5 separate regions of the Homo sapiens genome follow, and all the other regions are linked to region 1. Evidence: fine-mapped expression QTL. A gene starts in region 1. Each other region holds a variant in brackets. All regions are shown on one strand. Distances are from middle to middle.

Region 1 (5,000 bases):
TCACCAAGCTTCGCAGCGGTACCAGAGGATCCACCCCTGCTTTCCGTTTGGCCCTGTTCACCATCTCATTGATCCTCTCCACACACTTGTCTGTCCCGATCAGCTGGCCCCAATCAAGGGAAGAAGGAGTTACAAAGGCTTACAGAAGCTATGTTGCCCCCACAGGCTGCTCTGTGAGTCCCAGCCACCACCTCAACAGGAATTACAGAGAATAAAATCAGAACCAAGCCCTCTGATCCCCTCAGTGTGGTTTTTACCCAGTGGTTTGTGCTCAGTCCATCTGCTTCTGCCAGGATCTTCCCATCCTCTGAGACTAAAAGGACCTCGGATCGTGTGCCTCCCCTACAGAACACAAGAGGGCACTTGATCTTGCTCGGAAAAACCCACAGAGAGAGCTAAGCTTGTGCTGTCCACACTGGCAGAGCCCAGTATGATGGAGGAGACAGCTTCGACAAACTCAATCACCACTCCCAAACCCGCCTCTGTGGTTCAGTGTTTGAGTGCTCTTTAACTGAAACATAATTCTCACTCCTCTTCCCTTGGGGATGTCCTCCTTATCCTGCAAGACTCTACTTACGCTTCACCTAGTCCTCGAAACCTTTTCTGAGGTGTGGCCCACCCCAACGAATTAGTTAAGTCTCCGTTAGTTAAACCTTCATAGTGCCTCCAAAGTTATTAAAGTCTCCTCTGTATGAAGTGTGTGTTCAGACGCTTTGTGTCCGCCTCTCACTAGACTTCAAGCTCCACTGGGTCAAGCTCCTGATCACTTACTTACCCTCTCAGAACGAGCACAGGAGCTGGCACAGGCAATGCTCAGCAAACACTCCTAAGAAAAATGGCACATCTCTCTGCTTCCCTCACAATAGCTAAAGACTGCATTTCAAGATCCAGCTGCCAAGGTCTTCAAGACACCTTTGCTAGAAATGCTGACCAGATGGCAGGGTGACTTCATACATACTTAAGCAACTAAACCTTCAAATGTTGATTACTGGGGGTCACAGTAGTTCACAGGGAGATCTGTGGTGATGGGATATATGTTTCTTTATTGATCATTACTTTTAGGAATGGCAGAAGAAGACACTGAAGACCGCTCATCAAACTCAAAGAGGACATGAAATTTCAAGGGGGTAGTTAATACATGAGGTGGCAGATTCCACATCCAAAAGCATGTCTTGACGAACTGGAAGAAACGGGTCATATCTTACAGATGACTATAACAAGGATGAATGCAGACTCCTATACTGTTTTTTTTAAGTGCTACAAATACAGGATGGGAAAGATCATTCCTAACAATTCATGTGAAAAGACTTTGGGGTCTGTGAATCAGCAGTGGGGTGTGGCTGCCAGAGAAGTGAAAACAATCACAGATTCGAAAGTACAGTGCCCTGGCTGAGAGGCCAGCGACCCCCATTATTCCCTGATTTGACAAACTCAGATTCACAGAATGTTGCCACTGGCAGGGACATAGCGATCTTATTTATCCCTATCCTCACTTTGCACATACGGTAACTGTAGCCCAGGGAGGGTAAATATCTTGTCCATGGTCATACCCAGGGGCAGAGCTATTACAAAAAGTTCAGTAAACAAGCTTCTGAGCAGAAAAATGCAATCTAGTGAAAGCAGCATGGAAGGCCAACAGGGATGGAGCGGTTTTCAGACATCAGGACAACCTAGTACTCTGGCTCGCAGCTGCTCCAGCTCCCGGATAACCTCAGCCAAGATCTTTGTCCCGCTTCTCCCCACTCCCACTCCCCACCCTGCCCGCGCTCAGCAATTTCACACCTGACACCTGTTCTGCAAAACTCTGTCCGAGGTCAGGAATAGGAAAAAGGAGCTGCTTCTCCAGCTGAAGACAGCGGAGTGGGTGTTTCGTGGAAGAAAGGGGCGTGGTTCCGCCAAGAAACACAAAGGATCCCCAACCCGGGGTGTGGCTGTTGCACAGGCAGAGTCCCCGTAAGGCATACAGCTGTGCGCTCCAGGGCGCCCCTGCGCGTGCACACACCTCTTCACCGCAAGGTCCCGCCGCCCAAAGTGCCCGGACGCCGAGGATCAAGGCCACCAGCTTGCCAGGCTGGCCACGGCCTTCCGCCCCGCCTTCGGGCCCAGGCTCCCTCCGCCGGGCCGCACTCACCCCTCTACACCCCCATAGATCGCGGCCATGCTGCTGCTACCGTCGCTGCTGGTCCCGCCGTTTGCGTCTCTCCCCGCCTGACACCTCCTTCCCTCCAGCTGTCTGGGCACCGCCCCACTTCCCGTGACCTCCCGCGCAGCCAGCTGACTCCCTGTGCGCGTGCGCATGCGCGGGGCGGGGCGCCGGTAGGAGCCGGGGATGGCTGCGTCCCTCAGGCTGTCTTCCTTCTGGTGTCTCCTCCAGGTGGAGCGACTGCGGTCCGCAGCGGCCCCTCCCGTCCTCCTGGATCCTGCTTCCAGAGATGGACACTAATCCCAAGAGGAGGAATCAAAGAGGGGTATCTAGGTCGGTCGGACCCTTAGGACACATCACTGACCTGCCTGCCTGTAAACGCCCGGAAGTTGCTGGCAGTCCCGCGTTAGGTTGCGCGTGCGCACTGCTCTTGGCCGCGTAGGTTGTGACGCATGCTCGGCCAGACCCCCGCGAAGCTGTGGGCTCAGGGACCTGCGCCCATGGACCTGTAACAGAAATTACTGTAATGTTCTACTGAACATCTGCCACGCGATGGCGAGTCACACGGGCACACACGAACACTCGCTCAGATTGTTGCCCTGCGCTCGTGTGAATGTACGGATCCGGGAGGAATTGGGACCTAAACAGACAAGCCCTCGAGGCGGTCCCGGCAGCCCTGAGGAGGGAGCCTTCACCTCTTCCTACCCACCCAGTTTACTTCTTGTGGAGGATATTTGCAGGGACATAGCCCACTGGGAGAACTAGCAGATACGGCTTTACAAGTTTTTTATTGCCTTTCAGCCCCCATTCCGCTCCCCTTCCTTGCGCTGCGTCGGGAAAGGGAATGGGATCCCTAGGGGTGCAAATACAGGCCAAGTCAGGGAGAGCTGTGGCTCCTGAGGGCCTCCTCTGGCTCCTCCGGGAAGTTTTGGGCCCTCAAGGAGCAGCTTCGCGGGCCAGGAGGGCGGTTAGCTGCCCTTGGCATCTTTTTGGGGAAATCAGTTGGCCTGTCGCGGGTCGAACTCTGTCCCCCTTGACTGCCTGCCATCTTCTGGAGAAACCCCTAATAGGCTGCTGTGTCTGGTTATGCTTTAGTGAGAAAATTAGGCTTTTTAAGCTTTCTCATTTCCTACCCTACCACGTTGTAATTCACAAAAGTAAAAAGTAAATCACTACATGATAGACTCTGTATCATGTATTCATTTATAGAATATATATCATATATTCTATATCAGATGGAGAATATAATAGAGGGTAGGATTTTTTTATGCCTGCCTATGGCATTTTTTTAATTCACAGCACTTTAGAGCTGGAAGATTATCCAACATACACATTTTTAGAATTACAGTTAGTAGATTGTGGTGCAATTAAACTGGGCAGGATTTTTGGAGACTAGATTGTAGGTGGATTTTGAAATAATTGTTTCTGTCCTGTACTACTGCAATGAGCCATGGGACGTATGTGTATAAATATTAAGTTTGTCTTTGTATTGCTTGTTTAGGCAAGCAAGCAAAAGGGAAAGTGCCCAGGTTTAAGACAAGAATTGAGTTCACCATTTACTAGCTGGATGAGCTTGGGTGACTTACAGGTAATTGCTGCAGCCTCTCCTCTACAAAATGGAAATGATAAACATCTACCTGCTGGGGCTGACGCAAGATTTAAATGCCAAAAGAGTTTTGGAAACCATAAAGTACTTCACAGATCTTAACTAACTTGTATTTACATTACCAATTAGTGTGTGCTGTCCTGCACAGTATCCATATGTGAATACTGAGCACTTGAAATGTGGTTAGTCCAAAATGAGATGTCCCGTCAATGTAGAATACACACAGGATTTCAAAGACTTACTACAAAAAAAGAGTGTAAGATACCTCATTAGTCACTATTATATGAATCACATGTTGAAATAACATTCTGGATGTAGTAGATCAAGATTATAGATTACTAAATTTTGCCAATCTATTATATTTTTTAGTGTCACTACTAGAATATTTAAAATTTTGACCTACATATTTCTGTTGTACAACCCTGTTGTCTCTATCTGGACCATAATATTTCAAAGTCACTGAATGCCTATTTATGAAATAAATAATGGCCATATAATTGATTTAAAGAAGAAAGTAGCCGGGCGTGGTGGCTCATTCCTGTAATCCCAGCACTTTGGGAGGCCGAGGGGGTGGATCACCCAAGATCAGGAGTTCAAGACCAGCCTGGCCAACAGGGCGAGACCCTGTCTCTACTAAAAATACAAAAGTTAGTTGGGCGTGGTGACAGGCGCCTGTAATCCCAGCTACTTGGGAGGCTGAGGCAGGAGAATCACTTGAACCCAGGAGGTGGAGGTTGTGGTGAGCCAAGATTGTGCCATTGCACTCCAGCTTGGGTGACAAGAGTGAAACTCCGTCTCAAAAAAAAAAAAAAAAAAAGAATAAATAAAATACGTTTATGTTGTACATTATAATTCTTTTTGTTTGTTTGTTTGTTTGTTTGTTTTGAGACAGAGTCTTGCTCTGTCGCCCAGGCTGGAGTACAGTGTGGCGTGATCTCAGCTCACTGCAAGCTCCGCTTCCCGGGTTCACGCCATTCTCTTGCCTCAGCCTCCCCAGCAGCTGGGACTACAGGTGCACGCTGCTACGCCTGGCTAATTTTTTGTATTTTTAGTAGATACGGGGTTTCACCGTGTTAGCCAGGATGATCTCGATCTCCTGACCTTTTGATCCGCGTACCTCGGCCTCCCAAAGTGCTGGGATTACAGGCATGAGCCACTGTGCCCGGCCTTGTACATTATAATTCTATAGAGCTCTTTTATGTACCTTTATCTTGTTTGATCATCCTAACAACCTTATGAGAATGACAGATT
Region 2 (6,357 bases), 270 kb after region 1:
TAAGTGGACCATGCTATTCACACTTAGGTTGCTCATGGGTCAATTATACATACAAATGTTTGTATGTATATATATTTTTCTTTGTATGTTTTTCTATTCTTCATTTTAGGGTTTTCCTAGCTTTGTGTCATCAGGAAGCAGTATTAAGTAACATGGCCTACTTTCACTACTCACAATAGCAAAGACTTGGAACCAACCCAAATGTCCATCAATGATAGACTTTATTAAGAAAATGTGGCATGGCCAGGCGCAGTGGCTCACGCCTCAATCCCAGCAGTTTGGGAGGCTGACGCGGGTGGATCACGAGGTCAGGAGATCGAGATCATCCTGGCTAACACGGTTAAACTCCGTCTCTACTAAAAAAAATACAAAAAATTTAGCCGGGCGTGGTGGCGGGCGCCTGTAGTCCCAGCTACTCAGGAGGCTGAGGCAGGAGAATGGCGTGAACCCGGGAGGCGGAGCTTGCAATGAGCCGAGATCGCGCCACTGCACTCCAGCCTGGGCGACAGAGTGAGAACGCTTTTGAAAAAAAAAAAGAAAATGTGGCACATATATACCATGGAATACTATACAGCCATAAAAAAGGATAAGTTTATGTCCTTTGCAGGGACATGGATGAAGCTGGAATTCTTCATTCTAAGCAAACTAACCCAAAGACAGAATACCAAACACCGCATGTTCTCACTCATAGATGGGAGTTGAACAATGAGAACACATGGACACAGGGCGGGAACATCACACACCAGGGCCTGTTGGGGGGTGGGGAGCTGGGGGACGGATAGCATTAGGAGAAATACCTAATGTAAATGACAAGTTGATGGGTGCAGCAAACCAACATGGCACATGTATAGCTATGTAACAAAACTGCATGTTGTGCACATGTACCCTAGAACTTAAAGTATAATAAAATATAATAATAATAATAAAAATAACATGGCCTACTTTTTTGGAATTTCCTGAGATTCTCTTTGTGGCCTAGTATATGCTCACTCTTTATAAATGTTCTATAGGTGTATTTATTAGATTAAGCTTATAATTTTCATTATGCAAACATTTTACATTCTCATTTATGTTTTGTCTACTCAATCAATCAGTTTCTCTGAGAGGATTTTTTAAAACTCTCTCATGATGTTTATCATTTTGTCACATTTTCCTCTTATTTTTAAGAGCCTTTATTTATATACCTATATATTATATATATATTATATATATATTTCAGTTACATTTTTTTCCAAGCCGAACTGTATCCAGCTTTATTAAAGATACTTTCCATAAACAATCATGGTATTTCAGGCAGGACATGGAAGACAATTGTTAACAGTATGCAACAACTTTCAAACTCCCTTCTTCAGTGGACTGCCAAAAATCAGAAAGCCACTATAAAACCCAATGAAGTCTTCATCTGATGCTCTGAACAGGGGAAGTTTAGAGTGAGGGTTGACATTTCACATTTAGCATGTTGTTTAACAACTTTTCACGAGGTGACCCTGACTTTCAGGAAGTGAAATGAAAATGGCAGAATGTATCTGAAGATCCACAGTCTAGGAACGGAACCACTGCTCTTTAGACAGGTGCCATCTCAGTGGCACCACTGGAAAGTCCAGATTGCCTGACACACTGGTAACCAATGACTGGGGATGAGGTCCCAACAGATGTCTGGGCTTAAGAGAGTTAAGTCTATGCTGAAAGATAGAAAGGGAGAAGAGGACATAAAAATGAATTGCTTTTTCCAAACACAAAGCTTTAGTGCCAAGGTACTCATGTGTATCAAAGTCAGGGAATCCCTCCTCCCGGGAGCCAAGAGGAAGTCTCCCAAAACTAGAAGGGAAAGGTGTTTTCCTCACATCACTCCAGCTTTGGAGACATTCTATTAGTGACATATAGCCCTTCCCCCAGAAAAAACAACGAAGTGTTCTGTGTGCTAACAACATAATAGCTTTAAAAAACAAAGTAAAACAAAATTCTGCATTTTTATAAAACTTGATAAAAAATAGTATTTCAAACTGTACAGTCACCAGAAGTACACAGTTATCAAAAATGCACACACTTCACTTGGCCTCTCCATCACCTTCAGCTTCCCTGGCCTGGTCTGTTATGGCATCTCCTTTTTCTGCAGGGTAATTCCCCTCCTTGCCAGCATCAGCTTTTCCCTTTTTCCCTTTAGGTACCTTCTCTCCCTTCTTTGCAGGGGCCTTTTTAGGCTTGGGCTCTGGCTTTGGAGGAGCAGGTTTAGCAGACAACCTTGTGGATCTTCTCTGAGGTGTGTCCACCTTGGCTTTATCTCCTTTAACATCCCCTTCGGTCTTCCTCTTGGGCAAGGTGGCGGCGGTGACAGCAGTGGGACTTAGATGCTGGGCCCGGGATGCAGCGGCGCACAGGCTTTGATCGGTCGGGGGGTCATTCTCGCCTCTTCTTCTTCCATTTCAGTTACTTTGTTTAATGTCTAAAGATTCATAACTAACTCCACCCAACCAACCCCCACTGTTTTTTGAGACTGGGTCTTGCTCTGTCAACCAGGTTGGAGTGCAGTGGTGAGATCTTGACTCACTGCAGCCTTGACCTCTCAGTCTAGGTGATCCTCCCACCTCAGCCTCCCAAGTTGCTAGGACCACAGGCGCATGCCACCACACCTGGCTAATTTTATTTATTTTTTGTAGAGATGAGGTCTCACCATGTTGCCTAGGCTGGTCTCAAACTCCTGGGCTCAAGCAATCCTCTTGCCTTGGCCTCCCAAAATGCTGGGATTACAGGCATGAGTCCCTGTGCCTGGCCCAAGATCCAATAACTATTGTTTTGTTGTTGTTGTTTTGTTTGTTTGTTTGTTTGTTTTTGAGATGGAGTCTTTCTCTGTCACCCAGGCTGGAGTGCAGTGGTATGATCTCGGCTCACTGCAATCTCTGCCTCCTGGGTTCAAGCGATTCTCCTGCCTCAGCCTCCTGAATAGCTGGGATTACAGGCATGTACTATGCCTGGCTAATTTTTGCATTTTTAGTAGAGACAAGGTTTCTCCATGTTGGCCAGGCTGGTCTCGAACTCCTGACCTCAAGTGAGCTGCACACCTCAGCCTCCCAAAGTGCAGGGATTACAAGCCCAGCCACCAAGATCAATTAACTATGAAATCTACTTCGGGAATTTTACTTTATATCAATAATTATTCCTTCAAGGAATGTTCATTGCACCTCTACTATGTACCAAGCACTCTTCTAGATTTTAGGGGTTCAACAGTGAACCAAACAGACAAAAATCCCAGCCCTCATGAGGCTAGCATTCTAGCAGGGAGCAGAGGTAGTTAGTACATTCAGCCCCTTCTCACAACCCCAGGAAGGAGTCCTGTGGAGAGGTGATGGTGTGGAGCAGCAAGGAGCTGTCATAATCAATCCAGCCAACCTTGCCCTGCCGTCTAAAGGTAACAAAGAAGTGGCTGGACTGGGGCGGGTAAACAGGAAGGACTCCCTCCTGCCAACTCCTCAGGGTCAATTCTCATGTCCCCGCTGCCCCCTTCTCTCCTTCAGGGGAGGTTCCGAAAGCTGCAGTTTCCTCAAGAGAGAGGCAGAGGAATGAAGTTCTCCATAGACTGACTGGAA[C/A]CATCTGGGGAGACAGAGTGCAGTTGTCGGGTGACCTGGGGGACGTGGCCGGCTTGTCTCACTGGAGGGCCTGCCCGCCCTGCCTCCACTGTGGGAACTCTGTACAGCTGCCACTCTCTGTGACCTTGGGTTGTTTTGGTGGCACTAGCAGGCTGTGACAGACAACTGCCACCACACAGGGTATGATGTTGACACTCAGGTGCCCACAGCCTTCTCTCCCAGAGATTTTTAGTCTTTCCGGGCATGAGGCTCACCGTGGAGTCTGGGGTCCCACTCATTGTGCTTTAGGGGACAGCCTGACTCTAGCATAAGTAGGAGAAGCTATAGACATTACAGTTGTTACGAAATGACTCTCAGACCTGGTTTTCCAGGGGCAGGGAGAAGTTTCTCACATTCTGGAGGAAGATGTAACAGCATTTTGAGGATGAGGGATGTCACTGGTTTAGAGGAAAATCTACACTTGCTTAGTCAGTAATTTTGATGTCTACCAACAAATGCCCAGCCCTTTTCATGCACTAGATACACACAGCATTCACTGCTCTGACACATGAATTTGGGCCTGGGACCAACCCTTCCTGTGTGCCTCCACCATGCCTCTCAGAAGGACCCTCTCTTTTGTGTATTGTTCTCACTTATAAGAGCCAGTTATAAATTTTTCCACCTTGCCAGCCAGCAATTCCTGCTGCAGCTTAGGCAACCAACTCCAAGGACCTCCCCATCCCCAGTGAGAGTCCCAGGCCCCAATGAGAGTCACGGAAGAGTAAGGATGCCTTGGCTTCTCTTGGGAGGCACGAGGGTCCATGTGCTTTAGGATAGCCAGAGGGTCCATGCCATCTGGCTTCTTCCTGCAGGACAGGGCCCCAAGCAGCAGGCTGTCCATAGTGCAACCCTGCCTCACTCCCCAAAGCAGCTGCATCTCACTGCCTCTTGAATCTCCCCAAAGCCCTGCTTTTGTTGCAATCTTTGACTTCTTAGACCTGACAAGCATTTTCCACTCTCCACCATACAGGTGCCAGGACTGGGATCCCAGGCCCTCTTCAAGATGACCCCAATGAGCTTTTCATCACACTTCTGCCATGGGGTCACTGGAACTGAGCCAAGCCCCTTAGTGTCTCCTCAACCAGCTCTGATTGTAGCTTCTGCATTGGTGCTCTGACCACCCCTTAGCCTGGGTCACTTAGGATTTGTCTGTATGATAACCACATTTCTGGACTTTCTATTTGGTTCATAAATCATGCTACCATTAACTAACAACATGGTGGGGGTTATGGGAGGCAGGAGAGCTTGGAGGTTATAGACCCAGGCCCTGAGGCCAAACACTCTGGGTCCGATCCCATTTTCATTCCTTTCTAGCTGGGAAAGCTGGTTCATTGACTTTCATGTTTCAGTTTCCTCTTCTGTGAAATGGAAGTAACTACAGTACCTCCTTCGTGGGGGTGCTGTGACAATTAGGAAAGTCAATGCATAGGACGAATTTAGGATAGTGCATGGGACACGGATCCCACTGTGCAAGCATTAGTCGTGATTGTTTTGCTGATGGCCTACTTCACTCCTCACTTCACTTCTGAGGAAGGCTCTATTAGAACCCTCACTTTACAAATGGGGAGATAAAGCCCAGAGAGTTTGGATGATGATGTGGTTTGTCTCTGTGTCTCCACCCAAATCTCATCTTGAATTGTATTCCCATAATTCCCACCTGTTGTGGGAGGGACCCGGTGGGAGATAATTTGCATCATACTGTTCTCTTGGTGGTGAATAAGTCTCATGAGATCTGATGGTTTTATCAGAGGTTTCCACTTTTGCATCTCTTCATTTTCTCTTGCTGCTGCCATGTAAGAAATGCCTTTCATCTCCCACCATGATTCTGAGGCCTCCCCAGCCATGTGGAACTGTAAGTTCAATGAAACCTCTTTTACTTCCCAGTCCTGGGTGCGTCTTTATCAGCAGCATGAAAAGGGACTAACATAGTAAATTGGTACCAGGAGTGAGGTGTTGCTGAAAAGATACCTGAAAATGTGGAAGCGACTTTGTAACTAGCTAACAGGCAGAGATTGGAACAGCTTTGAGGGCTCAGAAGAAGACAGGAAAATGTGGGAAAGTTTCCAACTTCCTAGAGACTTGTTGAATGGCTTTGACAAAAATACTGATAATGATATAGACAATGAAATCCAGGCTGAGATGGTCTCAGATGGAGATGAGGAACTTCTTGGGAACTGGAGCAAAGGTGACTCTTTTTATGTTTTAGCAAAGAGACTACTGGTATTTTGCCCCTGCCCTAGAAATTTGTGGAACTTGGAACTTGAGAGAGATGATTTAGGGTATCTGGTGGAAGACATTTCTAAGCAGCAAGGCATTCAAGAGGTGACTTGGATGCTGCTAAAGGCATTCAGTTTTGAAAGGGAAGCAGAGCATAAAAGTTTGGAAAATTTGCAGCCTGACAATGCAATAGAAGAGAAAATCCCATTTCCTGAGGAGAAATTTGAGCTAGCTGCAGATATTTTCATGAGTAATGAGGAGCCAAATGTTAATCCCCAAGACAATGGGGAAAGTGTCACCAGGGCATGTCAGAGACCTTTGTGGCAGCCTCTCCCATTACAGACCCAGAGATCTAGCAGGAAAAAATGGTTTTTTGGGCAGGGCCCTGAGTACCTGTACTGTATGCAGCCTAGGGACTTGGTGCCCTGCGTCTCAGCTGCTCCAGCCATGGCTGAAAGAGGCCAACATAGAGCTTTGCAGTGGCTTCAGAGGGTGCAAGCCCCAAGCCTTGGCAGTT
Region 3 (6,357 bases), 20 kb after region 1:
TCGCAGGGGGTGTACACCCCTCCTGTAATATTGTTCTTAATACCCTGGGAGGGAGAGGATAAGATTACATTGAATATCGAAGGGAATGTACACCCTCCCCCTCTGATACCCTTCCTAATATCCAGGGGAAGAGAGGATAATTTTACTCCCAATATCGCAGAGACACTACACCCCACCTGTGATACTGTTCCTAATATGCAACGGGGAGAGGATGATACTACTCCCAATATCGCAGGGCTGGTCACATCCCCAGTTACATTTTTCCTAATATCTAGGGGAGAGACAATTATATGACGGCAAATATTGCAGGGTCTGCACATCCCTTCCTGATATTGTTCCTAATATCCAGGGGGGAAGAGGATGATATCAAATATGAAAGGGGGTGTACACCCCCCACCCCTACGATGTTGTTCTTAATATTCATGAGGGGAGACGATGATATTACTCCAAATATCGCAGGGGCTGTTGACACCCCCTGTGATATTGTCTCTGATATCCGGGGGGGAGAAAATCTTATTACTTCCAATATTGCAGGTGGTGTATACCCCACCTGAAATATGGCACCGAATATCCAAAGAGGGAGAGGATGGTATTAATACCAATATCGAAGTGTGTGTACAAGCCCCTTGTGATATGGTTTTTCATATCCAGTGGGCGGGAGGATGATATTAGTCCCAACATCCCAGAGGGTGTACACCACCCCTGTGATACTGTCCCTAACTTCCAGACGGGAGAGGATGATATCACTCCCAATATCTCACAAGTTGTACATCCCCCGTGATATTGTTCATCATATCCAGGGAGGCAAAGGATGACATTCCATTGAATTTCACGACAGGCGTACATGCACAGTGTGATATTGTTCCTAATATCCAAGAAGGGAGAGGATGATATTACTCCCAATAAAGCAGTGGGTGTACATTACCCCTGTGTTATTGTCTCTAATATCCGGGGCCGGGGGAGGTGGGGAGAGGATAACATTCCCTCAAATTTAGCAGGTGGTTTGATGCCCCTTGTGGTGCTGTTTTAAATATCCAGCGGGGAAGACAATAGTATAGCACTATTTTTGATAGTCCGATTCATCCGCTCCACCTTTCCGGAACTCTGAGGCTGGGAGGCGGCATGCAGTTTCCGTGTGATCCCCAATACCTTTGCCGTCTTCTGTACCAAGTCAGCCACAAACACTGGCCCGTTATCTGAGCCTACCCATAAGGGCAGTTCAAACCTAGGAATAAGATCTCGAAGAAGCAGATGGGTTACTTCACGAGCTTTCTCAGTTCATGTTGGATAAGCCTCCACCCACCCAGACTAGGTACACCCAAGAACTAGTAAATACTTGTTACCTCCACACTTTGGCATCTCTCTGAAGTCTACCTGCAGATCTTCAATGGGGGCTGCTGCATAAGCTTGTATGCCGGGCGGAACAGCTGGACCTTGCCTCGCATTATGGTGTCGGCAGGTAACAAACCGCTGCCTCATGGTTTTGGCGAGGGCTGACAAATGCGAGATGTAGAAATACCGGCCTAACAACTTTTCCAGTGACTCCTGACCTAGATGGATGGTTTCATGCACAGCCAGTACAACTGCACCTCCTAGGAGCTGTGGCACAGCTACTCTCCCATCTGGTAACTGAATCCATCCTTCCTCTGTCACTTGTCCTCCCCTTTACCTGGAGAAAGTCCTTTTCTTCTTTAGAAGAAGTAGGTACAAGATCAGGTGTTTGAGGGAGCAGAGGGGCTGTGACTGATGCCTGGAAGGGGACAGATGCTGCTTTTTGAGCCTCTGAGTCAGCGTGGGAATTCCCCAAACCCAGCAAGGTGGAAGCTTGCTGATGCCTAAGTGCCACCTTGTGGGGTTTCCATACTGCTTCTAATAATTGCAAGATTTCTTGTTGATATTTTATGTCTTTCCCCCCAGAGTTCAGTAGGCCCTTTTCTTTCTATAATCCTCTACGCACTTGAAGGGTTAAAAAGGCATACCGAGAATCAGTGTCAATGTTGACAGTCTCACCTTCACTGAGTTCTAAGGCCCCAATTAAAGCAATGAGTTCAGTTTTCTGGGCTGAAGTGGCCTGGGGCAATGATCTGGCTTCAACAACAGTATCCAGGGCTACTACTGCATCACTGTATATCCTGCACATCTCTCTCCTTGTGGGTTGATGAAGCTGCTCCTGTCCACGTATAGTTCCCAGTCTACTGATGCCCAAGGCTGGTCCCGAAGGTCAGGTCTGCTAGAGTCAACTGAATCCAACACTTCTACACAATCACGCTTGACAGGCCGCTCTGATACCGGGAGCAAGGTGGCAGGGTTTAGGGTGTTACAAACTTCAGTGGTTATACGGGGATTTTCACAGAGCACACTTTGGTACTTGATGAGTCTAGCATTCATTAGCCAATGATGTCCTTTAGTGTTCATTAAAGTCACCCCAACATGGGGGGCCTTTATGTTCAGGTTTTGCCCAAAAGTCAGCTTATTTGCTTCTTGGACTAGCAGGGCAGTTGCTGCCAAGGCCCTCAAACAGGGGGGCCATCCTTTAGAAACTCCATCTAGTTGTTTAGAGAGGTAGGCCACCGGCCTCGGCCAGGGCCCCACAGTTTGGCTTAAAACTCCAACTGCCATCTTTTCTCTTTCTGACACATACAATGTAAAAGGCTTTGTCAGATCGGGTAGCCCCAGGGCTGGGGCTGACATAAGTTTTTCCTTTAACTCATGAAAGGCTTGCTGTTGTTGGGATCCGCATTCAAAAGTTTCCCTGTCCCCCCACCCCCAAACTTTGTGAGGTCATACAAAGGCTTGGCTAATACTGCAAAGTTTGGGATCCACAGTCTATGAAACCCCACAGCTCGTAAGAATTCTCTCACCTGCCTTCTGCTCTTAGGCTCTGGTAGATTGCAAATGACCTGCTTTCTTTCTGATTCCAGGCCGCGTTCCCCCTGTCGGATACTAAATCCCAAGTAAGGTACCTGCTATCAGCAGATCTGAGCTTTTTTCTTGGACACCTTATACCCACAGTCCTCCAGGTGCCAGAGTAGGGCATCCGTTCCCTTGGCGCACCCGACTGCCATGGGGTGTCCCAGCAAAAGGTCATGAACGTATGGGAGCAACACGCTCCAGCAAGGAGACTGACAAGGAATTGTAATTCCCAAAGTTCTTAGGTGCTTGAGATGGCCCTCGATACCTTGAAGAGCTTCTCTGGGGACCGGGTCCTGGTTTTGCCTAACCAGCTGGGCCCCAGGCTTAACTTGTATGAGTATGGGGGCTTGGTTGACTGCCAACCCTGGAGGGTTGTCTTCTGCCCGTACTCTTCGCCACCACTTAGCCAGAGGTGATCTTATCTCTCCGCCCGGCTCAGTTAAAAAAAAGTCTCCATTCCTCCTCTCCGGGGATGGTAAGGGTCATAATGACTCCC[G/A]TTCTGGGGAATTTTAGCAGCAAAGACAGTTGCTCTCAGCTTGCTGAGCAAGTCCCTTCCCAACAAGGGCAAGGGACAGTCAGGCATGTACAAAAACTGATGAATCACTTTATGTCCTCCTACAGTACAAGTCTGAGGCCAGCAGAAAGCTTGCTTTGCTGAAACCCCCATGGCTCCGATGATATCAATAGTCTTTTTGGATAAGGGGCCGACCAGGGCGGTTACTAGCGAATGTTCAGCACCGCTACCTACAAGAAAATCAATGTCTCTACCCCCGACTGTCATTCTGACCATAGGCTCTTTGGGGACACTTGAGCCTGGTCTCCCTCAGTCCAATAACCCTTCTGCCAGGTTGAGCAGGGCCCCTTCCTCCTTGTCCGGGGCCTCCTGCTCTGAGTCACCTTGTTTTCTTTTGAGCTGAGGGCATTTGTTCTTCCAGTGTCCTATTTCTTTACAAGAAGCACACTGGTTACACTGCAAACTCTGACAGCCAAGCTGAGTTTCATTCCCAGGGCCCCCCCTTCCCTTGCCTCCTTCGGAGGACCCCTCTGATTGCTGCAGCTGACAACCAGGTCGGTGTTTCGCCGGGCCTGATGTCCATTCTCTTTGCGGTTTTCCTCAAGGCTTACTGCAGCCCTGTTTACAAACACCTGGTTGGCTATTTCTAATAATTGTGATGTATTCATCCCTGCAAACCCAGCCTGTTTCTGCAGTTTTCTTCCAATGTCTTCTGCGCTTTGACTGACTAAAGCCATGTGAATCATGCGCTGATTTTCAAGACTATCAGGATCAAAGGGAGTATACATACAATAGGCCTCACACGGTGTCTCGTAGAATTGTGCTGGACTTTCTTCTTTTCCCTGAATGACCTCAGAGACCTTGTTAACGTTTGTGGCCTTCTGTGCTCCCCTCTTTAATCCTTCCAAGAGAGCTTCCCTGTCTCAGTTTAGCGGTTTAGCCTTTGCATAGCCTCTCTTTCATTTGGGTCCCACTGGGGTTCGGTTCCTGGTAACTGGGTCCTTAGGGGGGTTTTTGATAATCAGCTGGTGCATGTTCCTCTAGCCACTTAGTTGCTGCTTGGAGGACTCTCCGCCTTTCATCTCTGTTAAAGAGGAACATGAGCAACTGGTGCCAATCAGCCCAGGTGGGGTTGTGGGTCTGGATAATAGTTTGGAGCAAATCAATTAGAGCTTGTGGCTTTTCGGTATTGCACAAGGTATTGTTTTTCCAGTTGAGAAGGTGGTCAGAGGTGAAGGGCTGCTACACAAAAACACGCCTCTCCACCAAGTGACCATCCTCATCTATCCCAGTATACCGCTGCTCTCTCAGGGGCATTTGTATCCCAGTTTCGGGTCATAAACCAGCTGCCAAGGGAGGGGTTTCTCCCGAGTCTCCACCTCCTCTCTTATCTGCTCTGGGTGGCCTAGGGATATGCTTGTCTTGGGGAGGCACAAGCACTGTGGGCTCAAGAGTGGGGAGCCTCTTTCCCTGGTAAGGGGAAGGCAGCACTGGGATCACTGGTGCCATCTCCTGTAATGGATCTTCTGATGTTGGGTCGAATAGAACTTCAGGAGTTGATTTCCCTGGGTGGGTGGAGCCGGATCCTTCCTTAGCTATCTGTCCCTTTGCTCCTAGTACTGCTGCTGCCTGGCCTCTTAGCCACTGTGGGGGGTCTAGCACCAGCTGTCACCAAGTGTCTATGTATGGGAACTGGTCTAGGTATCCTTTACCAGTCACCTTTTGCCACACCTTAGAAACAAGGGACCTGTCCAGGCTTCCTTCTGATGGCCAACCCACTATTAAAGTTGGGCAATCTATCTCTCACAGAGTTCCAAGTTCCCCTGGCGGTCTAGTGGTTAGGATTCGGCGCTCTCATCCACCGCGGCCTGGGTTCGACTCGTGGTCAGAGTGAACCAAGTAAACGTTCTGGATGAGCCAAAGACAAAACCTCTCAGACACCGGATTTAAAAAGGAAGAGAATTCTTTTTCGACCGGGAGCGTCTGCAGACTCGCGTCTTAAGAGCCGAGCTCCCCGAAGGAAGACAGACTCCCTGGCCCTTTTCAGGGCTTACAACTCTAAGGGGTTCCACGTGAAAGGATCGTGATGGATTGAGAGCACATGTGCTTAGAGTTGGGCGGGGGGGGGTTCATCTTTTCACCTCGGGCCAGCTCATCAGTGGCAACAACTGCTCTTGACACTGACTTCATCCTGTTCTTTTTCAACTTTTACTTCCTTCTCCTTTTCAGAGACAGGAGACAGTCAGAAAAGTGGCTTCCCTCCTCAGGGCGACAGGATGATATTACTTCTACTATCGCAGGGGGTGTACACACCCCTGTGAAACTCTTCCTACTATCCAGAGGGAGGGAGGATGATATTACTCCCAATAACGCAGGAGGTGTACACAACCCTGTGATATTGTTCCTAATATCCAAGGTGGGAGAGGATGATATTTCTCCCAATATCGCAGGGGTGTTCACATCCCCCATTACATTATTCCTAATTACTAGGGGAGAGACAGTTATAGGACAGCAAATGTCTCAGGGTCTGTACATCCCTTCCTCATATTTTTCCTAATATCCACCGGTGAAGAGGATGATATGAAATATCAAAGGGTGTGTTCCCTCGACCCCCCCTTGATATTCTTCTTAATACTCATGAAGGGAGACGATATTACTCCAAATATCGCAGGGGTTCTTCACACCCCCTGCGATATTGTTTCTAATATCCGGGGGAGGGGGGCAGAAAATACGATTACTTCCAATATTGCAGGTGGTGTATACCCCAGCTGGATATTAGGAACAAGAGCACAGAAGGGATGTACACCCAGTGCGATATTTGGAGTAATGTCATTGTCTACCCCTGGCTATTAGGAACAACATCACAGAGCGGTGTACATTTTCTGCGATATTGTGAGGAATGTCGCAATATTACTTATCACAATTAATAA
Region 4 (6,357 bases), 62 kb before region 1:
AATGGAAGTACAGATTCATTTATAACTGATAAGATAGAGCACAATATTTCTTATCACTAAATCTTCTAACTACAATTAAATCTCTCCTAGAAAAACAGAAGAAAAGCTAATTTGAGGAGGAAAGTGCTCTCTCTTCTCTCAAAACTTTACCTTAAGTTTTTTACTTCCAAACAGTCCCCCTTCATCTTCATCAGAATCAATATCTTCAAAAAAATCAATATCTTCCTCCTCCTCATCATTATCATCTTTTCGTTCCTCTTCTTTTTCTATGTTTTCTAAATAGGCCTCCATTTCAGAGAGTTTGAAGAATTTATCATCTACTATGGACTTTTCTCTTGGTTTTCCCTGTCCTTTGTTTTGCACCTTGCTCTGCTGTTCCAATTTGCTGATATCAAAGTCAAGGTCAGAATCCTCATCACTGAAAACGGGGCTTTTCCTCAGATCAGATTTGCTTGAGTTTTCAGCTCTCTCACCCATTTCAGGATCATCATTACCCATGTCGGACACTTCCTCCTCCTCTAAATCTTCTAGGTCCTCCTTGTCATCAGCCTCTATCTCTGAACCATCCTCTTCACGTTCCTGTTCTTCACTCTCTGGGAGAAGACTGATATCTTCATCATTAATTGTTTCACTAACTGCATTCTGAAAGTATTGTAAAATTGGTTCATTTTGCAATTCCAGTTGTTGCCAAATCTGCTCATCATCAAAATTTTCTATCACAAGTTTTTGCAAGGGGCTTCCATGGATCCTACCATTCTCTAATATTTTATTAAAGTCATAAAGCACTTTTGTTAAAGAAGTGAACTTTGATGCCAATCCCTCTTGAATCCTATTGGGAGGAATTAAGTGAGATTTAGAATTACAGGTAATAATTTCACAGCACTCTTAATAAAAATAAAAAAAACCCAACTCTTTTGTAAAATAAAATTTGAATGAAGTATAAGTATAGATTCTGGCCCCCAACAACATATAAGCTGATGAGCTACACTGATATATAAAACCTGTCAACCAAGTATCTGTGAATCGGCTGTATAGATTTTAGGCAGGAAAACCATTATAAATCTATTTGCTTGGAGATATATAGTGAATTAACCTTAAATTATCAATTCTGCTACATTATATACCACTCCATTCATTTGTTCACTTATTCATTCAATGATCAACATTTGCTTTGGCTACAGTGGTCAAGGAAAACCTCTCTTAGATGTCACATCTGAGAGGAAACCTACAGATAAGGAGATAGTCTTATAAAGGTTGGGAAACATGTATTCCAGGCAGAAGAAATCCTCTAAGATGCAAATCCTCTAGAGGTGAGCTTGAGGAAACAAACAGGTGACCATGGCTAGAGTGTGAAGGAGGCAGAGGGTGAAGCTGGAGAGACTGATGGGAGCCAAATTATGCATGGTTCAGGAGTAAGAATTTGTCATTTAAAGTGTAAAGAGAAAACATTTTAAGCAGAGGGATGAAATGATGATTTACACGAAGGAAGGAGAAAGGGACGAGGGAGGAGGAGGAAAGTACAGTGATTAGAAGGTTGATGCAGCATTCCAGCGAAAGGATAATGGTGATTTAGACTGGAGTTAGAGCAGTGAATATGCTGAGTATAGTTTGGAGGTAGAACTGACAGGATTGCTAAAGAATTAGATATAGAATAGAGAAAAATGAAGACATTAAAGTAGCAGCCTAGTTTTATGTTTGAGTACCTGAAAAGACAGAAGTGCCATTTACTGAGATAGGGAAGGCTTGGGTGGTGGTGTCAGGCCTCTGAGCTGAAGCTCAGCCATTGTAACCCCTGTGACCTGCACATATATGTCCAGATGGCCTGCAGGAGCCAAGAAGTCTGGGGCAGCCGAAAAACCACAAAAGAAATAAAACAGCCAGTTCCTGCCTTAATTGATTAATCAACATTACAACATTCCTCCATTGTGACTTGTCCCTGCCCTACCTTAACTGATCAATCGACCTTGTGACATTCTTCTTCTGGACAATAAGTCTTATGATCTCCCCACCATGTACCTTGTGACCCCGTCCTCCTCTGCTAATAGATAACCACCTTTTACTGTAATTTTCCATTACCTACCCAACTCCTATAAAGCAACCCCTTCCCCATCACCATTAGTTGACTCTCTTTTCGGACTCAGCCCACTTGCACCCAAGTGAATAAACAGCCTTGTGGCTCACACAAAGCCTGTTTTAGTGGTCTCTTCACACAGACGCGCTTGACAGGTGTAGCATGGGAAAAGGACTTCAGGGGATGGCAGAGTATAGGTGGGTAGAAACAACAATTCTATTAAACAGACACAACAGCTCTATTTTGGACGCAGTGAATTTGAGATGCTTGACAGTACCAAAATTTTAAAAATCGTTAAAAGTTGTACAGTGTGGATATCCCAGTTGTGTGCTACGGAATTCAAACTAAGCTCAGTCTGTAGTTGCTGTGAGCTGGGAACTCAGGGAAAGGTTGGGGTTTGAAACATAAATGAGTAATAATTTCATAGATCACATTTTAAATTCTTCAACAAAATACATATAAAACGCTTGTGTTGGGAAGAGACATGGAAGTTCTATTTCTGAAGAAGCTTAGTCATGGGGGGTGGACAGACAAGTGACAAGTTCGTACTTTCAATAAAGTATGCTAAGCGCTAAGTGCTTTGAGAGCACATAGGAGGAAGGAGAAACCAACAGTCTGTGTGTAGAGGGATGGGGGCGTAAGAAGCCCAAGGGAAGCTTCTAGGTGTTAACAATTGAGGTTAGAGTGATTTCAGTAACACTCAACTGAGAGATCCATCTATACAAATTTTAACAGTTTTTAAAATTTTGATAGCCTAGGAAAGCATAAACTCTGAAATTTGGGGAAAAGCGATTTTACGTTTCCCCTTACCTTCCCCCAGCTCCACAATTTGCCGGAGGCCTGCAACCCGCGTCCACGTGAGACCCCGGTCGCACCCCGAGCCCGGGATCTGCGCACTTACGTGAGGAAGCACTCGGGCCGACCCGTGGCTTTGCCGACTTCCGTCAGACACCGCTCCAGGGTCCGTCGACGCCAGACCTGCGGCGCCATGGCTGTCAGCAACTCCCGACACAATGCAGCA[T/C]GCAAGGGAAGGGAGCCGCCCGGAAACCGCGCGGCAAAGATGCGCCCAGCGCAACTTGGATTTCAGAGCCGAAAGTTCCGCGGCGCACAGGTTCCGGACTCGCCCTCAGCCAGAGCCAATGGCAGCGCGAGCGCTTTCGCAGGAGGGTGGGAAACAAAAATCTCCATGGTCAGCCCAAACGCCTTTCAACTCTCTCCAAACTTCGTTTTGTATTTTTCAGGGGCCCACAAAGGGTGACCCGTCCTGGCCTTACGTTTCTGTTTTAGCTAAAGTAGGCCCGTTGTAGCAGGAAAGCAGCGACCTTCGCCACGCCCCTGACCTTTCTGTCCCCGCCCCCTCTGCCTCCCGCCCCGCCCTCTGCCGCGCGTCTCTCAACCTCCGTGGCTAGTCTTGACGTGGCGGGTTGCTTTCCAAAATGGCGCGGGTGCTGAAGGCTGCAGCCGCGAATGCCGTAGGTGAATACCGGGCACCGGCGACCTTCGCCATGGGACAGGGAGCGTGGGAACGGCGGTCGGGGGCGGAGGAGGCCTCGGCGTGGCCAAAGCACCTTGATCTAATGTCCTCCCCCGGGGGCGCGTTCCACAGCAGCTGCTGTCACTTAGGCAGAGGGTGCCTTCCAGAAGCGCCACCGCTTAGTAGCGGGGATTGCCTTGTGCATGAGTCCCATTTCCATCCGAGAGCTGTGCGCCTTGGGCTCTGCACCTTCCAGTATGTGGGCGGGAGAGTCGAGGGAACTTGCCCGGCAGGTCAGGCAGGGCAGGGACAGAAGTAAATAGAAGCGGATCGGTAAGTTATTTTACCGCGCACCAATAAAGAGACTGGGGAGAAACCAGAAAGGAGAGCACGTTCCGTAAAAACAACAACTACTAGTCGGCCGAACTCCAAGCGTGACCAGCTTTCTGTTGGGAACACTCAAAGGTCAGTGGTGTAAAGAATACAAAAGGAGTGGTTTTTCCACGTGCACTAATATATTTATCGCGTACACAGATAAAAGCATGTGGATTTGGAAACTTTCTTGAGTTCTCTCCCCCTTCATTTTTTTTAAAATATGTACATAGAATCAGTTATGACAGAAATAACTGTAATAATTGTCACGTTTTCTGACTCACTTTCTCCTCTTTTTATCCTTTTTTTTTTTCTCTTCCTCCTTTTATGAGAGGGCAAGTATTTCCCTTAATCTGAGATTCCCTATTAGGAAGAAGGTGCCAAGTGGTAATGCCCCAGAGTTACTCCGGGACATTCGTGATAAATCCTTCTAGCACCAGAGCCCACATTCTTAACCGTAAGGCATACCTTCCTCTTAGGTGATACACAAGATAGGAACGTAAAACTATAAATAAATGAATATTTGGGAAAAGGCATTTTTATGTCTATTTTTAGAACTGCACACTTTAATGATTGACAGTTTGGGAAAAAGTATGACTTCCAACAGGTCATATACATACTGCAAGAACTCAATACAGATAAAGGTGCATGTTTGTTTTGTACTTACATACACATCTTGGCATAAAGGAAAAATGAAGACAGTGTATTCCAAAGATTGCCTTTGATTTGTCCTATTAAGATACTTGAAGCTTAATGTCTCCACTTGTGTGTGTGTGTGTGTGGTTGAATATACATAAAGTAAAATTTACCTTTTTTTTTTTTTTTGAGACAGAGTCTCACTCTGTCGCCCAGGCTGGAGTGCAGTGGCGTTAGCTCACTGCAACCTCTGCCTCCCAGGTTCAAGCCATTCTTCCGCCTCAGCCTCCCGAGTAGCTGGGATTACAGGCACCCGGCACCACGCCCGGCTAATTTTTTGCATTTTTAGTGGAGACGAGATTTCACCATGTTGGCCAGGCTGGTTTGGAACTCCTGGCCTCAGGTGATCTGCCCACCTCGTCTTCCCAAAGTGCTGGGATTACAGGCGTGAGCCCGTCTCTACTAAAAATACAAAAATTAGCCGGGCGTGGTAGCACACGCCTGTTATCCCGGGTACTCGGGAGGCTGAGGCAGGATAATCGCTTGAACCCGGGAGGCGGAGGTTGGCGTGAGCCAAGATCGCGCCACTGCACTCCAGCCTGGGCAACCAAAGCGAAACTCCGTCTCAGAAAAAAAAAAAAAATTGCTTTTTAAGACTGAATAATATTCCATTGTGTGTGTATACCACATTTTGTTTATCCATTCGTCTCTTGATAGACATTTGGGTTATCCCCACCTTTTGGCTATTGTAATACAGCTATGAACGTGGGTGTACAAATACTTCTGAATTCCCGCTTCTTTGGGGGTGTGTATACTCATAAGTGGAATTGCTGGATTACATGGTAATTCTATGTTATGGCCCCTCTTTTAAGGAACATAAAACTTCGCCGAAAAACAAAAGCACAGAAAAATCAGAGTGAACACGTAGAAAAGTTCTGAAAATGGAAATTGAACCTGTTAGGTGGGAGACAAGAATGACCAACTTACATGACTGCATAGGTTTACTTTCATTAATCGTCTGTAAATGGGCTAACAGAAATGTAATCTGTTTACTTACTGTAATGAATAAAAAAAATTGATCATAGTTTGAAACAAGTTGAAGATATATATATGGTGCTGTGAAATTAACTGGTCAAATGTTTAAGAGAAAACTTACCAGACTAACTTGAAAGCACTTCTAATGAATGACTTTCTAAATACGTATGTTTCCTCAAACCAGATATTCAGTGAAAATTCAGACTTATGTTCGGCCAGGCGCGGTGACTCACGCCTGTAATCCCAGCACTTTGGGAGGCTGAGGAAGGTGGATCACCTGAGGTCAGGAGTTCAAGACCAGCCTGGCCAACATGGCAAAACCCATCTCTACTAAAAATACAAAAATTAACCGGGCGTGGTGGCGCGCTCCTGTAATCCCGGCTACTCCGGAGGCTGAGGCAGGAGAATTGCTTGAACCTGGGAAGCAGAGGTTGCACTGAGCCAAGATTGCGCCATTGCACTCCAGCCTGGGCTACAGAGCCAGACTCGTTTCAAAAAAACAAACAAACTTATTACGTGTTCTAAAATTAGATTATGTGAAGGTCGCACAACTTTGCAAAGATGCAAAGAAATGAATTGTACACTTCAAATGGGTGAACTTTATGGTATATAAATTTTAAGTCTGTTTAAAAACTATTAAGAGATAAAGCTGTTAAAAAACCTATTACAAGTGATTATTCACTTTTATAGTACTTTTTATACAAATTTAACATCTAATGTCTTTAAATAGTAAGTACTCTTAATGCATTTGAGTATAGATCCTTGCAGC
Region 5 (5,000 bases), 550 kb after region 1:
AGTGTGTTTGCTTCAATCATCTGGATTGTAAACTCCTTGTGGCAAGTCTTGCCTTTGCTTGAAGAGCCCTGGGACACAACATTCACAACGAACGTTCACAATGAGCGTTCACTCCTCTGTCTTAGCCTCCTTGGGATATGGCCAGGCCTCTTTGGGGTCACTGGATGGAAGTCTTTGTGTTCTTATAAAAGTTTCAGGAAAAGCCAACAAAATGAGTTAAGGGTAGGAAAATAAAATATTTCAGGGGTCATCTCATCGGGTGACCAAACAATGCAGGATCCACTTGACAGGCCACTTCAGCAGACTTAAATCCGGGCTTTGGATAAGGATGACAGTTCCTTCATTCCTCATGGATTTTTCAATATTGTAGTGGGAATATTTAATATCATTTAAATAGAAAAACACAGATTTAACTTACCACCCAACTGAACAATGGTACAGCTATTTATAATGGAGTTCAATGGCTTTTGAGAATTGGAAGGATCCTTTCTCATAGGAAGGGACTTTTCATTCATTGCTCTCTGCCCAGCACCTAGACAATGTCCCGCTAATGGTGCAGCAGGTGCTCAGTGAGCACTTGTTGAATGAATGAATGTCAGGATTCAAGTGCTCTGTGCAGCAAACCACCATGGCCCACGTCTACTTAAGTAACAAACCTGCACATCCTGCACGTGTACCCCTGAACTTAAAATAAAAGTTGGCTGTGATCCCAGCACTTTGGGAGGTCGAGGCAGGTGGATCACTTAAGGTCGGGAGTTTAAGACCAGCCTGGCCAACATGGTGAAACCTCGTCTGTACCAAAAATATAAAAAATTAGCCGGGTGTGATGACACACACCTGTATCCCAGCTATTCAGGAGGCTGAGGCAGGAGAATTGCTTGAACCTGGGAGGTGGAGGTTGCAGTGAGCTGAGATCATGCCACTGTACTCCAGCCTGGGCAACAGAGTAAGACTCCATCATAAAAAAGTAAATAAATAAAAAATAAAAGTTGGAAATAAAAATTCAAGTGCTCCTCATCTCCACTGAAATTAGAGTAAGAACCAAGACCTAGAGCTGTAGCGGCAGGGATCTAGACTAGAAGTAAAGGAATTCCCGAGGATCTGCAGGTTTTCCCATTCCCCATCTGTACACCCTCACTACTCACTACCCAGCCCCTAGTCCAAGTCTTTGATGAGACTTTAACTCTGTTTTCAAGCTGGTGACCTCTTAGAGAAATTCAGTTCAACATAAATGTATTAAAATCCTATGTAGGTGCGTTAGGCCAGGTGTAAGGATAGAGATGATTTAGCCACAGCTCCTGACCGCACTAGAGAGGAGAGACAGGTAAGATGTAAAAACTTCTGAACTGCAAGGCAGAATAAAGTAAGGATTCCTCTGAGGAAGAAATGATTATTTCTGACATTTGAGCAAGGCTTTGAGAGGCCAATTTGATTCCCATGGGTAGAGGATGGGATATGCCGACTTGAGAGATCAGCATGATGTGAATGAAAACTGTCAATAGGTTCGGTACGGTGGCCTGCGCCTGTAATCCCAGCACTTTGGGAGGCCAAGGCAGGTGAATCATGAAGTCAGGAGTTCAAGACCAGCCTGGCCAATATGGTGAAACCCCGTCTCTACTAAAACTACAAAAATTAGCCAGGCATGGTGGCGCGTGCCTGTGGTCCCAGCTACTCGGGAGGCGGAGGCAGAAGAATCGCTTGAATTCGGAAGGCAGAGGTTGCAGTGAGCCAAGATCGTGCCACTGCACTCCAGCCTAGGAGACAGAGCGAGACTCAAAAAAAAAAAAAAAAAAAAACAAACAAACAACAACAAAAAAAACTATCAATAGTAGCAGCTACCATTTGTTGCATGTTTATTGTGTGTCACTCAATATACCACATTTTTCTCATGTGTCTCTCGTTTAATCTCTAAACAACCCTGTGCAAGAGTTGGATATCTTTATCTGCTTTTACAGTGAAGGAAACTGAGGCTCAGGCAACTAAACTAAAGTCAGCAGCCATAAGAAGTTGGGTGAGGATCCTAGTAGCATGAACCCAAGGCACCAAGTTGGGAGTGCCAATTTTTGTGCAGGGAAAAGGGGCAGTGCTGGGCAGCTGGGGTCAGAGGACCTGACAGGAGGGAATGGGTGGAGTTTAGGTGGAAACGAGGTCTAGGATCAGGTTATGCATGCTAAATCTCTACTCAGGACTTGGGGCTGGGTTCTGTCTCTG[C/T]GCTGGGTTCTGTGAGTGGTACAGAGCCCATGGAGAGCTTAGAGGATAGGAGTGATTTCATTCAGCAAGGTCAGTCTAGTAGTAGGAGCAAAGATTTTTTTTTTTAAGCTGTTGGCAAGAAAACCAGTCTAACAACTATTTTGATAGCACAGGGAGAGATGATAGGGCCTGAATTGGGGCAGTAACAGCAGGGATGCAGGGGGATGGATAGGATGGACGGTGTGGAGGCTGGGTGTGTAGGAGGGCTTGGCTTGGATACTGGGTGAAGGAGAGGGAAGGGCTGACAATGACTGCCTAGTTATCAGTCCCGCCCAGAACCAAGGAAGAGGTGGAAGACATGAGTTCAATTTTGAACACATGATCTGGGGTACAGGCCTTGTGGAGAGTGGTGGAGGTTGGAGATAGTGTTTGGGCATGGAAGCAGGGGAAGCATCTATGGGAATATAGGGTCGGTCCGGTGCCTTGGTGGGCTGTAGTGATAACTTCAACAGCCTACACTTGTCTGCCTTTGTTGAAGTAGGGAGGATTCCATTTTTCTCGGGTAGTTGCTGTCCCACGTGACTTGAACATTTTAAGGGAAAGTCAAAGGTCTCAGATTTCTCTTTTTTTACTTAATTTGCTCACAGTATGTAGGTGCTAAATAAATATTTGATTAGTTAACATAAGTAAATAACAATTTTTTTTTTTTGGAGTGGGAGTCTCGCTCTGTCACCCAGGCTGGAGTGCAGTGGCACAATCTTGGCTCCCTGCAATCTCCGCCTCCCAGGTTCAAACAATTCTCCTCCTCTGCCTCCCAAGTAGCTGGTATTACAGATGCCCACCACCACACCCAGCTGATTTTTGTATTTTTAGTGGAGTCCGGGTTTCACAATTTTGACTATTTAAACCCTCAAAAGGCGTAAAAGGCATGCTATTTCAAGATCAGTCCATGGAACATCAGTAGCCTGCAGCTGGGCGACCCCGGGGCCTCAAGTAAAACCCTTCGTTGAAGTTCCCTTAGTGATTTCCAAAGGGAGGAGGGTCATGACCACCTCCTCATCATCCTGAACTTCCTGGAAGTTATGATGAAACAGGACCAACATGAAGCCCCATCAAGTGCTGTGTTCAGTGGGTGCTCATGGTGACTTATGGACCTCATGTACTCTATTTCATTTTGTTTCACTTAATCCTTGCAAGTCCCATGAAGGGCTGTTATCCTTGTTTTATGGATGAGCACACCAAGCCTTAGCAAGGGTACATAATAGAGCCAAGATCTCACAGTGAAGGAGTGGCAGAGCCAGGATTTGCACCCAGGCCTGATGGCAAAGCCCCTTTCTGCTGTGCTGTGACAGGCTAGAAAGTGGTAGGGGGTTGTGGTGCAGGCACCCATCTGCCCATCTCTCTTGCCTCCCTGATCCTGAAGATTCATTCTGAATACTTTGTTTTTTGCTATTGTCAGATATGTTTAGATGGATATGGAAAATTCCTATGAGCTTTCAGGTAATGCTGGATCATTTCCTGTGATGTCATAATCATGAAGTATTTCCCGAGATTTTTCTAGTTGGAACTTGCTGCTGTCCAATGGAGATGCCACATGGCTACTTTTGACCTTAATATCCCAATGAGTTTATGGATAGTCCATGGTACGCTCATCCTACCAGCCTTGCTCATAGTCCTCCTCTGCAGGGCCTTCCCTTTTTCCTTCTTAATCAGTTCTTACCCTGAAGCCAGCATCCTCACCTGGCTGTCAACCTCTTGGATTTAAAAATATTGATGAAATCATACAATTTAGTGATTTTTGCTACGCAGTTAAAATCCTGCCATGCTTGCAAATAAAATTTGAATGTTGGGATATAATTCATAAGGGAAGATGCCATGAACCTATACTATCTGGCCCTGGGTTCTGTGTGGCCCATTTCTTTATATATTTATGCCTACATGGGAGCCTTTGCAGACCTCTCCCTGAGCAGCAGGATTCCCACCGTCTACGTACCACTAACTACTTCCTGTTCCTTAGGACCTGCCAGGTCTAAGAATGGTAGGGGAGGAAGGGGGAAACCTGCTGCCCTCTGAATACCCACACTCCCTTCTGCCCTGCCCTCTAGCACAATTCCTATCCTCCCGCCCTGAGCGTGTTCTTCATCCAAAGGCCTTTCCTCACCACCTCGTCTGAATCCAGAACATCCTTCATCCAAAAGGACCTGCTGCAGCCTCTTCATCCTCCCACATCCCCCTGAAAACAAAAACTTACCCTTCATCCCTTCATGCAGGAAGTCTGGCTTAGAGGATCCCAAACAGGTGAAAGGTAGAGCTCTTGATATTCTAGAGGGAGCAACTGATCCATGCAGTGGAGTACATAGGGGCCTGAAAGCAAACCCCAGCCCCAGCAGAGGCCAGAGCAGGACATGGTCCACTCTGCTGAGGTGGTCAGGGGCCAGAGGATGCTCCTCCCAGCTCCAGGCACTATAGCTGAGTGTCCACAGAAGAGGTGGTCACCAGGCCAATGGGTGGTTGATGATGAAGGGTGTCTGACGCTGAAGGCACAGCCTGGGTATCTGTGCAGAATTGCTAGTCCCATGCCTGATTGAGGAGTTGGAGTGGGGGTATCCTGCTCTGGGGCCCAGGGGAGAGGGGTGTCCAGCCTCTCTTAAGAGCATTTCCCATTGACACATCAGCACATAGGTTTTGGGATGGCTCCACTTCTGGGGACTCATGAGCTAAATGGGTGAGCCTCCTTTTTACCTTGTTTCTGTTGGGAACATTTACCTGAGTACCAAACAGCTGAACGATAAGCATGGCAACACTTGTCC

Evidence for each region. PIP is the estimated chance that this variant, and not a neighbour inherited with it, causes the effect.
Region 2: its variant is fine-mapped to the expression of NAGK in left ventricle (GTEx, PIP 0.91).
Region 3: its variant is fine-mapped to the expression of NAGK in whole blood (INTERVAL, PIP above 0.99). The same link has a PIP of 0.9 or more in monocytes after Pam3CSK4.
Region 4: its variant is fine-mapped to the expression of NAGK in tibial artery (GTEx, PIP above 0.99).
Region 5: its variant is fine-mapped to the expression of NAGK in cerebral cortex (GTEx, PIP 0.99).

Annotation. Positions count from the first base shown.
Region 1 is chr2:71,065,844-71,070,843 of GRCh38, reverse strand. It overlaps NAGK (N-acetylglucosamine kinase), which reads right to left and starts at 2,196. Exons shown (of 10, transcript NM_017567.6): 1 at 2,132-2,196; 2 at 258-342; 3 at 5-103. The coding sequence starts at 2,160. RefSeq lists a silencer at 1,911-1,970.
Region 2 is chr2:70,799,118-70,805,474 of GRCh38, reverse strand. It overlaps the pseudogene HMGN2P21. Among named protein-coding and RNA genes, the nearest start is that of FIGLA, 12 kb to the right of the region's middle. RefSeq lists an enhancer at 4,835-5,389. The variant C/A (reference allele first, on the strand shown) is at 3,585.
Region 3 is chr2:71,045,321-71,051,677 of GRCh38, reverse strand. It overlaps the pseudogene TRE-CTC15-1. Among named protein-coding and RNA genes, the nearest start is that of NAGK, 20 kb to the left of the region's middle. The variant G/A (reference allele first, on the strand shown) is at 3,410.
Region 4 is chr2:71,127,370-71,133,726 of GRCh38, reverse strand. It overlaps MCEE (methylmalonyl-CoA epimerase), which reads left to right and starts at 3,498. Exons shown (of 3, transcript NM_032601.4): 1 at 3,498-3,547. The coding sequence starts at 3,508. MPHOSPH10 (M-phase phosphoprotein 10) reads right to left here and starts at 3,093. Exons shown (of 11, transcript NM_005791.3): 1 at 2,973-3,093; 2 at 151-829. The coding sequence starts at 3,061. RefSeq lists enhancers at 2,896-2,945, 3,046-3,095, 3,417-4,275. The variant T/C (reference allele first, on the strand shown) is at 3,093.
Region 5 is chr2:70,518,414-70,523,413 of GRCh38, reverse strand. The region is part of intron 1 of TGFA (transforming growth factor alpha); the gene reads left to right. Among named protein-coding and RNA genes, the nearest start is that of TGFA, 33 kb to the left of the region's middle. The variant C/T (reference allele first, on the strand shown) is at 2,212.